2 separate regions of the Homo sapiens genome follow, and region 1 is linked to region 2. The links come from fine-mapping of genetic effects on gene expression. Tissue or cell type: esophagus muscle. Region 2 holds a variant in brackets; the other region holds the start of a gene. All regions are shown on one strand. Distances are from middle to middle.

What was found. PIP is the estimated chance that this variant, and not a neighbour inherited with it, causes the effect.
Region 1: it holds the start of VPS26B, and the variant in region 2 is fine-mapped to the expression of VPS26B in esophagus muscle (GTEx, PIP 0.99).

The regions. Positions count from the first base shown.
Region 1 is chr11:134,222,173-134,227,600 of GRCh38, forward strand. It overlaps VPS26B (VPS26 retromer complex component B), which reads left to right and starts at 2,499. Exons shown (of 6, transcript NM_052875.5): 1 at 2,499-3,173. The coding sequence starts at 2,951. NCAPD3 (non-SMC condensin II complex subunit D3) reads right to left here and starts at 1,795. Exons shown (of 35, transcript NM_015261.3): 1 at 1,691-1,795. The coding sequence starts at 1,754. RefSeq lists enhancers at 2,236-2,285, 3,076-3,135, 3,236-3,385 and a silencer at 2,406-2,875.
Region 2 is chr11:133,470,867-133,476,802 of GRCh38, forward strand. All of the region lies in intron 1 of OPCML (opioid binding protein/cell adhesion molecule like), which reads right to left. Among named protein-coding and RNA genes, the nearest start is that of OPCML, 59 kb to the right of the region's middle. The variant G/A (reference allele first, on the strand shown) is at 3,375.

The sequences.
Region 1 (5,428 bases), 750 kb after region 2:
TCTTTACACTATTCAAATCTCTCACTACCTATTTTCTCAGCTGTCGAATGCAGGTAACTTCTGCTCTGCTACTTCACTTAGGATGGAAGAAGAGGAAGAAATACATCACCTATTCACTCAACAAACACTTTGAGAAAATACTAGGGAAGCCACTTATACTTCTAGGGATATAAAGATGAATACTAGAGGGTTCTTGTCCACAAAGATCTCAACATTTCACACTTAGGATACCAAAAAAAGCAGCCTATGATAGAAGAGAGGCCACTGAATTTTGAGTCAGAACGAGGCAAATATCCTGACTTGATCACTTACACATAATTAGTCTCTCCTTCATCATTGGAAATACAGGATTTTTGTGAAACATAATGTGTATAAAGGCCCTAACAATGTGCTAGCCACATAAAAAACAGTCAATAGATGGTATTTATTATTTTTGCTATGGATGAGTGTTAAAATAATAGATATGTAAAATGTAAAATGCTACAGAGCTTAATAGGGAATAGTACTGGGGGAGGAGGGAGAGGAATAAGATGATTCTTCAATTGGACCTGAATGTAAGAGTTTTGCCAGGCAAATAAATGCAGAAAAGTGCCTCCCAGCAAGCACAGTGTAACAAAGCACACAAAGGGAAAGAAATTAAAGTGTTTCTAAATGAACAAAATTGTTACAGTGTTTGCTTGTGGGTATTAGTATCTGTTCAGCAGTTATTATGTGGCAAGTACAAATTTATCTTTACAAAAACCCCTGTGAGGTAGATATTGTACTCCCCATTTGACAGATCAGAAAACAGGGGTTTAGCAAGGATAAACAACCTGCACGGTAATACATGGATGCTATGGGGTAGAGCCAAGGGAACAATCCAAGTGTGTCCGACTCCAAAGGTTATGCTCTTGGAAAATCAAACTGGAGAGAATGGCAGCTCTTATAAAGCATGCCAAGGATGTGGTCATTTATTTAGGAAACAAAGGGGAAACATTAAAGGTGTACAGGCTTGACACATTCAAAGCTGTGTTTTCAAAAGTCGTTCTGCAAAAGTGTGGGGGATGGGCTGGCACAGTTAACATCAGAAAGCAGCTAAAATACTCCTGCAATTGCTCGAGGCTATGATGAAGGCAGCAGCATCAGGAATGGAGCGGGGCTGCCCTGAGACACCTCAGAGGCAGGACAGTGGTAGTGGGCATGAAAGGGGAAGCAGAAATGCCATGACTCCTGGGTTGGTGGCTTGGATGGTGCCATTAGCAGGCTTTGGGAATCCCATTTTCACTCATGTGACGTTTGATGATGTCTGCATGTGAGACATCCAGTGGAACCTATGAACATGAAGTTCAAGAAATAAGTCTGGCGGAAGAAAGAGATTTGCAATTTAAAACCATCTTAATAGGTAAGAATAGATAGGTGCACGAAGACACGCACAGGAAGAAGGGGAAGGCCGAGAAAACAGATGCACAGGCGCTAGAAGAGACTGGCCAACATTCGCTTATTCTAAGGGTGGCCTGGCCGGCTTGAGCCCCCACGGGAAACCTGGCTAGCCGCAATCCTGGCGTGGCACGGCCCTGGGGACCCCAGGCACCGCCGACAGCCGGGCGCCCCCACCCCGCCCCCACCGGCACCCCGGCCCGGGCTTAGGCATCGTCGGGGACGCATAGGACCCTCGCCCTGGCCCCCGGGCCTCCCGGCTGCATCTGCTCACCGAGTCTAAGATCCAGCGGACACCAGGGCTGCAGGCCGCTACCAAGGCCCCGCAACGCCACCATGATCCCAGGGCACCGGCTCGCCGCCGCCGTGCTCAACTTTCAAAGCTCGCTCCCGCGCGCGCGCCGAGTCGTTCCTGTGGACCAATCACAACGTACAGAATTTCCCACTGGCCAACCACCGCGCCGAGCCGTTTCCATTCGCTCAACCAATCACCGGCGTCGTCCGCCGCACGCTCAGAGAACTGGGCGGGCCGAAAAGTGGAAGCCAAACAAGGCTCCTGCGGGTGTTCCGCTAATTCGTTCGAGAAGGAGCCAGGGCCTGAGTTAAACCCTAACAGCGTTTTTCCCGCCTCGTTTTTCTTCAATGGGGGAAAATCTAAAGGGTATCTGAGATAGGGTACTTCCGGTAGTAACTGTCACCTTTGCCCTCGTCAGGCGACATTTCGCGTGCGTGTCAAAGGGCTGCCTTTCCCGTCAGCACTCGAACAGCGTAATATCCGAATGTGAAAGGCAGCCCAACGTGTATCGAGCTAAAGTAATAAGGGAAAAGTAGCCGAAAGCACTCCGAGAAGACAAGACAACTGCAGTTCTGTAGGGACTGCGCGGCACGCGTGGGCCCAGAGCCTGTCCCAGCGAGGTAGCAGCTGCCATGCCGACCGCTGGAGCGCCGGCCGCGCTCTCCCTGCGCATGCGCAGCGAGCTCTCCTCCGGGCTGCCGGGAGTCCCAGGAGCGTTAGGGGGTGCGCCTGCGCGCCGCTGCTCCAGCGCATCCGGGCTGGAGCTCGCCCGCCCCCTCCCCCGCCCGGAGCCGCCGAAGCGCCTCGGTGCGTTGCACCGCCGGAGGCTGGGCAGCTCGCAGCGCTGCTCGGCGCTGGACCCCACCCGGCAGGCGCAGGCCACCCACACCCGGCTCTGTGCGGCTGCCCCCCGCAGCATTGCACGGCCGACCCTCGCCCGCCCACTGCCACCGGCCGCGGGACTGGCTGGGACTGGCTCGGCCGAGGGCACTGCTCCTCGGTGCATTGCTGCTCGGGCGCCGCAGCCCGCAGCCGCCAGCCTCCCCCGGCCGTGCCCCTCCCCCGTGGAGCCGGCTGTCCGTCGGCGCCCACTGCCCGGCGGCAGCGGCGGAGCCAGGCAGCCCCGCGGCGGCCGAGCGCGCTCGCGCATCGGGCCCTCTGGCCTTCTTTACCTAGGGCAGCCCGCGCCCCGGTGCGAGGGAGCGGTCCTTACCGAGACCCGCCCGGCCCGGCGGTGCGATGAGCTTCTTCGGCTTCGGGCAGAGCGTGGAGGTGGAAATCCTTCTGAACGATGCAGAGAGTAGGAAGCGGGCCGAGCACAAGACGGAGGACGGGAAGAAGGAGAAATATTTCCTCTTCTACGACGGGGAGACGGTCTCCGGGAAGGTGAGCCTTGCCCTCAAGAACCCCAACAAGCGGCTGGAGCACCAGGGCATCAAGATCGAGTTCATCGGGCAGATCGGTGAGTCGACCCCCGGGACCCCCTCCCCCAGCGCCGACAGCCGGCCGGGGAGCAGGGTGATTCAGGGCCCAGCTCCTCCGGCGAGGCCTGTCACAGTCGCTTGTCAACTGCAGTCTGAGGCCTGGGGTTCAGCTACAAGTCCCGCCCGTGGGCGACTCCCCCTGCGTTACTGTCCTCCCTGCCAAAAGTGACAGCGCGCTGCCAGGGAGATGGGGACGGCGAGGGCGGGAGGAAGCGCCCTGCTGTGCCTCGTGGGATGGGCACCTTGCCTATGGGTTCTCCCCATTGTCTCCGGCATGCACTCGGCTTTGCTTCTTGTCCCCAGGATTTCTGGGTGAGGTGCTCTGGCCATAGCCTGCAGGTGGGTTTGTTAGGGGGAGACCGCTCTGCCAATACTGGCTTTCCCATCGCCCGGCCATCTGCAACTGCCAGACGCAAAGTGAGGCTCGTCCACCGAGCCCCACTTCCCAGAGCCCGCACCAACCCGTTTTTCTCTTTAGATGTGGTGTGAGAGAGCTAACCAGTTCTCTCTTACCTCACCTCAGCCCTGAACTACCTATGCTTGTACATGTTTCCAGAAAGAAGACCCATAATCTTCAGTCTAAATCTGACTACCTAGGCTGCGTTTCTTAGACTTCTTTATTAGAATGCAAGTTTTCAGTTACCACATTTTCTGTTTAAAGACAAAGAAATGGTGTTTCTAAAAACCACAATTAAGTGATCAGAGTTTCTCAATGCTTTAAACATGATTATTAATCATTGGAACTAGACAGCGCCAGGCACAGTGGCTGATGCCTACAATCCCAGCACTTTGAGAGGCTGAAGTGGGAGGATTGCTTGAGGCCAGGAGTTGGAGACCAGCCTGGGCAATATAGCAAGACCTGCCTCTACCCCCAAAAATTTTTTTGTAATTAGCTGGTCGTGGTGGTGCTTGCCGGTAGTCCTAGCTCCTCGGGGGGCTAAGATGGGAGGATTGTTTGAACCCAGGAGTTCCAGGCAGCAGTGAGCTGTGATAACACCACAGCACTCCAGCCTGGGTGACAACCAGCAAGACCCTGTCTCAAAAAAATAAACAAATAAACAAATAAGAACTAGACAGTAAAAGGCAGTAATGGTAAAGTGATTTGGGGAGCTCCCAGTCAAGACTGGGTCGTCTCCAATTCTAAGCCTTATTTAGACTCTTGTGTATTATTAAAATGCTTGGGTACTTTTAAAATAAGTTGTTTTTGTCGTTAGGTTAGGAGTAGAATCACAGTAAATACCCTGTGAGCTACACACCTCTGGTAGAGAATCCATACCGATACCACACACTGCATACATAACTCTGTTTTTAGAGACTTCCTTGGGGAATCTTTGTTAAACTCTCTTATCCTGAGAGTTTAGCAAAGAATTTGCCGTCTTTTTTTCACAGAGGCAGGAAACACGGAGACACAGGTAGGAGAAACCCTGGGAAAAGGAGGCCTTGTGGCCTGGCTCTTGGGTTCACTGCTCAGCCTCAAGCATTTTGCCTCTGGTATTTAAGAACATGAAATCAGGTTGAAGACTGGCTGATCTTACAGGAAGCTCTTTGTTGTTATTTTAAAGCCAGAATATGAAAGGTCTTAGTGTACCAGAAAAGGGGCCGAAGAGTGAGTTCCATGCCTTCTGCTTTCCTGCTTCTGGGTTCAATGGTGGGGTAGATGGCAAGGTTCCTCAGTAGCAGCACTGTGATGTCTGGCATCGTTTGGCATGTTGTCATGGGATGTTTAGCAGCATTCCCAGCCTCTACTGACCAGACAACAGTAGCATCCCCCACTTGCGACCACAAAAATGTCTTCAGATATTGCTGTATATCCTCTGGAGGGTAAAATCATCTCTAGCAAAGAACCCCAGGATAAACAGGATGAGTCCAAAGCATATTATGCTACGCATAGTAAATAGTCGAGAAATCCTTGCCTATTGAGCAAGGTATTTTTTAGTAGCAGTTTTAAAGTTATTGCATTGATTCTTTGGCTCCATAATAATAATTAGTGTTGGCAGGCATGTTTAGTCTGTGTCTATACCATCACTCCCAGATGGTGGTACCTTACCAGTATGTGAAAGATAACCCAGAATGTCTTCTGCCCCAGACAGTGTGAAATTAGCTGTTCTAGGAACCGTGTCAAGGCCTTCCTCTGGTCTAAATGAAAGGGAGTTGAAGAAACTGCTTGCTGTTCCTGCCCCACCTGATTTCTTGTCTATCTCCTTACTCCTGAGACATCCATCATCCCTGCTGA
Region 2 (5,936 bases):
GAGAGATCATTCAGGGTCAATCCAAACAAAGCTGGTCCCTGACACAGACTCTCTGAAAAGGCAGAGAGTTGGCAAATTTTGTTCCCTGAGCTGTCCACCAAATCAACAAACTAACTGCATCCCTACTAAGGAAAAGGCTTCTGTTAGATGACGTAGTGTGATAGGAGCTACGAAGCAGGATAAGACATGATCCCTGTCCTTGAAGACATCAGTCTATATGGAAAGATACAACTCAAGTACATTAAAGACAGCTAGCAATACAGGAAATGAGTAGTTCAGAAAACAAACAACAGTCTACAGCTCAGCATTGGGAGGGATCACTGGGAGGTTGGAATGACTAGGGATGGCTTCCTAAGAGAAGTTGCACTGAAGTCAGAACTTGAAAGGAAGATTTTGGAGAAACAGAAGAATGGAACGGATGCAGAAGCAATCAAAGGAATATGTAAAATAGAGTGAAGAAGCCTTTATATACTGATATGGAATGATCTCCAAGAAATGTTGGTAGGTAAAAGGGCAAGATGCAGAGCTGAGTGTATTGTATGCTATCATTTATGTAAGAGGAAGAGACAGACAGAGAGCTAGAGAGAATATTGGCTTGTATATGCATATAAGATTTTGGAAGGATACTGAGAACTAATGACATTGATCATCTTGGGAGAGGGGAACTGGTTGGCTGGGGCATAGGCATGGAAGAAAGACACAGATATTCCACTGTATTCCCTTCTGTATCTTTTAAAATATGAAACATGATTTCTTAAAAAAAACAAGAGTAAAAAACCGGAGTGGAAGAAGCAATAGAATACTTACAGCATATTTTACGGACTACTTGAGGTAAAACAGAAGGATTGAGGAGTAGTAAAATGTTTCCATGATGCTCATGACAGGGTCTAAAATTGAATAGGTTATTTTCAAAACATGGATATGCTATAAAGAGAAACTGAGGTCAGGAGTCATTGAAGACAGAGGGAGTAGAGAAAAGACACTTGTAGTTTAAGGGTGTGGAAATGGTCCCTGGTCCCTGCAACCCTGACCAGCAGGAGGATTTCTGGAAACCTAGCAGAATGCCATGATTCTGCCAGTCATCCTGAAGTGGGCTTGACCCTAACACGTCTGACCATGAGAGCTGATCTTTCTATTGCACTTTGTGCTTTGACAGACCCCACCTATTGGCTGACTTTTGGAGGAAAATGGAAGTGAGAATGAAAAGTTAAGTTTGATTTTTTTTTTCTACTGTCAAAAAGACAAGTGAACCCTTTTAACACACTGTCTTTCAGAGATGAAGCTCTTTTAGTTGCTTTTCTTTTCTGCACACAACATTTCACCACTAATCCTCAAATCCTCTGCAAATGCCAGAAGCCGGGCCAAGCCTTTGCCTGGTGAAACTTTAGTAGTACAATATGGCCTTTCAATAGAAATGCATTTCTCTGCATTATCTTCTCGTGATCACAAAGAAATAGGAGACAATGGGCCATGTGTCTTGGAGGAAGCAGTGCTGCTTACATGGTCCCAGTCAGGCACAAGAAAGTCCTGACGGTATTTAGGGAGCAGCGTTTCAGAGCATCATTGCCACCTGGGCAAAGGTGGGGAAGAGGTTTCCATCATGAACGGAATAGCTCTTACTTCCATAATGATGTGATGCAGATCAGGCAAACCCCGATCTTCGGCTGCCATTCTGCTTGGCTGAGAGCTGTTTTAGGGGATCGAGGAGCTCTCAGGGCCACATCACCTGGGCTCAACAGGGTATCTTGCTGAGTTTGAATGCTGAGACTGCCAGCAGAGCCCCAAATAGTCCTCGGATCCAGAAATAGCCTGTGGCAATTATGTTTTGTCTTCCTACTGCAAGGAATCCTTTCATTTTTTCTCATCTGTGAAGACAAATCTTCCAGTGTTTCTGGCAAATGAAAGTCCAAGATTAGCTGAAAATATCTATGAACAGACCCTGCAGCAATTGGCAATCTCGTCCCTGGGGTATGGAGATACTAACAGGATCCTAATAACTGGAACAGGAAGCACTGCTGCACCACCCTTCCCCAGTCCTGTCCCAGCCCTCCAGTGATCCAGCGCCCAACCCCACCTGCCCACACACTAATGGCCCACAGCTAACCCAAAGGACAACATTTTACCATTTTACTAAGGGACAAAGAACCATACTGATGCTGCATTTTCTGTCCCTGGGACTGTCTCTCCCTCTCTGTTTCATACTGGGAGCTCACAAAGGCTGAGACTTCAAATCATTCTTCAGGAAAGATGAGTCTATAATATCACACTTACTTACCTAGACTACTTCTGGAACTTGACTTTGACCTCCCCCTAAGGCAGGCAACAAGGTTGACAAAGGTTAATAGCAGGAAACAGCACAGAAACCTAACCCAGTCTCGAATTTTAAATAAACCCAGATAGAGAGGCCTGAGGATGAGGAGATGGCCTCCATTGAAAACAAAACACATTGTGTCTGATAAAAGGATGCTAGCTTTCTCCTGCAGCATCGAAATTCCTGTGAAAATGTTTGTTCAGTCTTATTTTAAAATTGTGTGGCTAAATAGGTTTGCTGACTTTAAAGTTGCCTGCAATTTTAAATAATTTCAACCCCTTTAAAAAGTTGAATTGCTGAGTCAAGTACTTAGAGACAAGGAAATAGGGGTTGGTTAGTGAACAAGGTTACTCCATGTTTTGTTACTACAAAAAAGCACCCCACAGAGAACAAAGGAAAACAAAATCAGACGAGACTCAAAAAGAGAGGGGAGCCGTCTTGAGATCTCTATGCATAATCTTCCCAACTGTTCCACAAAAGTCTCAGAGTTCAGTCTCTTGGGACACATCTGGGCCCCTGCCTATTTCTTGTTGCTTCCATTGGCTAGGCCTGGATCACTGGCCATCTCTGGATCTAACTTTGTGCCCAGTACATCCAACCCACATGGGCAGGGCTGGTGGAAGGGTTGGCTTCCCAAGAGCTATCTGCATACTAATAACCGGAAAAAGAAGAAGGAAATGTTGTACACACTTACAAAGCTTTTTAAGAATATGCTATACTGAGCATAATATTTTACAGAGTAACACTTTAATAAAGACATATTTGTGATTGGAATGGATTCTAATTGAGAATGGGCTGAGCTAAAAAGGGTTAAAGCAAAGCTATTACTGACTAGCTAAGAATAGAAATAGTATACCTCTTTGGTACATAGAAGACCCCATCATCTTTTTACATTCTATTTTTTCCTACTTGTTATTTATTTATTTCATTTAATAAGTAAATTAGCTTAAGTCTTGTTATCATACATAGTTATATTCTTAATGTAAACATGAATTTAATATTCCTTGAGGGCTCTTAATTGGCCAGTCTCTGACTGAACTAGAATGCATGGTACGTGCTTCAC[G/A]CCAAGGATATCACAGTCTGCTATAAAGGACCAGAGCCCAGATAGGAAAGTAGATGGACTCTTTGTAACACACATTGTAAAAATCCCAGCTGTCAATCATGTTTCTCATTTTTATCAGGTCTACCTACTTCTAAAGTGAACAACTAGAATGCCATTCATTTATGAATTCAAAAGCTGTTATCAATCACCAGCTGTTTACCAGCCACTGTTCTAGGTAAGCATGTTATTCTTGAAGAGATTACAGTCTCATGTAGAAGAAGAATAAGAAATAGACGAGTTTCCTGAACTGTACTAAGTTTAAAGTCAGGTAAAATCATAGGGTGCTGTGGAAGCACAGAAAAGGCATCTCAAGCCCTGCTGCGGCTGGGGGTATGGGGCAAGGTAGCCATGATTCCTGGAGAGGTGGATTCTTGAAGGAGAGAAGGGCGGGGCTGGAGGAGCATGGACCCGCAGAACCCAGCTCACTCTGGTTGCCCTCCAAGACTTGGCCTGAACCTACTTCTTTCAGATTCATTCTTTGCATGAAAAGACAGATGGCAGGAAGTCGGGGTGAGAGAGAATATAGGAGAGGAGGGTGGGGAGTCTCGGATGTGCTGGGGCACTGGCCTTTGAGTGCACACAGCAAGCGCCTGCTTCCTTCAGAGATTATGTCAAAGACAGAGGATCCTCAGGAGGTACCAGTGACGTGCACACATATGGGAGGGAATGCTCCTGCCAAGGAAGCACATCCTGCCAAGCAGTGCAGGCACCTACCACGGTTACCAAGAAAGTTTTTGGCAATCCGTGGGACATGCCACCTTTACCCCCTAGGCCTGAAACAAGGAGGCCCTGGCTGCTCTTCTATACCCTGTTGCTGTTATGGAAATATTTCGGCAGTTTTTAAATAATAGTATTCCTACACAACTGAATGTTTCAGAAATGTTTGTTTTTTATTTTTTATTGTGTGTAGGGTTTTTGTTTTGTTTTTGTGGTTTTTTTTTGTTGTTTTTTTGTTGTTGTTGTTGTTTTGCCACCTAGCATCACGTCCAAGACAATACAAATATTTCAAGCCACATAGGATGCAAATGCAACAAACAGTCACCTCTTTGACATTGCAGACCTCAGGAGAAACAATCACTCATTTCTCCTCCTCTCTTTTCACCTTTCTCCTCCTCCAACCATTTTCTATCTTCTTTTGTTTTTTTATCCATTACAGACAAAGAGACAACCCCACAACATCCAGCCTATGCTCATGGACCTTCCAAACAAGAAGCACCAGACAGAAAGCGTCCTCTCTGTCCCATTGCAGTAACACAAAGGAAAAGGAAGGATTTGAGATTTTGCAAAAGAATTAATAGCATCTTCACAGAGCTGAGATTGCAGGAACAATCTCTTTCCTTCATAAACCTACCAGCTCTCTCTCTCTTTTTCTTAGGTTGAGAAAATAAGAGAGACATCAGCAGGAGAGTTGACTGCTGAAATCCAGTCTTAACCTTTGAAAATATAATTTATTTAAACCCAGCGTATTACAGAAAGCCCAGCGTGGATGGCGGATTAGGTGGCTGAGGCAGCTTCAGTCAAAGAACAGGATAAACTGAGTGTCTCCCCTGAGATCATTCCTACGGGATGAAAATGCTTTCAGCCAAGATACTGAAATAAAAGGTCCTTGCCTGGTGGGAGAATGGATGGTAGGTGAGATGGCAGTGGAGCCTCCCAGGGGCAATGGCTAGTGAGTAGCAAGCTGCATCCATTTGGAAATCTCCCTGGGAGTGCAAAGAGGATGAAGGACAAAATGGCTTCAAAAGCTTCTAAGGACCACCAGCAAAATCATGGCCCAGACAGGGCTCTCCCTATATTCACACAGCTGTCACCACCCAATTGACCTGGCAAAGTAAACAGGAGACCAAGGCATGTCTGGAAAACACGTTTGGGCCAAAAACCCATTAAGGTAATTTTCAACATACAGGCTCATCCTCTGGGGACTTACAGCTACTCCCTTGATGGAACTATAAGTAGACAAACAGTACAACATCTACTTACTCTCCCAAAGCCTGTCAAAGTTGCTGTAGACCGACCCAAATGGCCTGATTGGGGTGCACAGAGAGAAGTGAGTAAAGAGAGAGAAGAAACACCAAGACAAATTCTACATACACTTTTTGTACTCTGTTGTTAGTTTTTTTTTTTTCTGATCCAAAATGAACTTCATAGGAGAAATTTAGTATCAGTGAAAATGGGCTCAATTGCACAGTTCAGATTTCAAATATTTTCCCTGTGTAGCAATCATTCGTAGTGAATTTGCCTTTTTTTCAGTAGGAAAGAAGTCACAGGACATTCATTCATGTATTCATTCAACAGAAATACATTGGGCATTTGTGATGTGTTGGACCCTATGGAGGTAGTGGGCAATGCAGCAATGAACAAAGTAATCCCAACACTTGCATTCCTGAAGCAGATCATCTGGCAGGAAAGGCAGACTTTGTCCTGGTGATGATTAATACCAGGAGTGTCGAGGAGAACGGCAAGACAGGGCAAGCAGTGAGAAGCACCCCGGAGGGCCGGTAGTTTTGGCCCATTTCACACCCC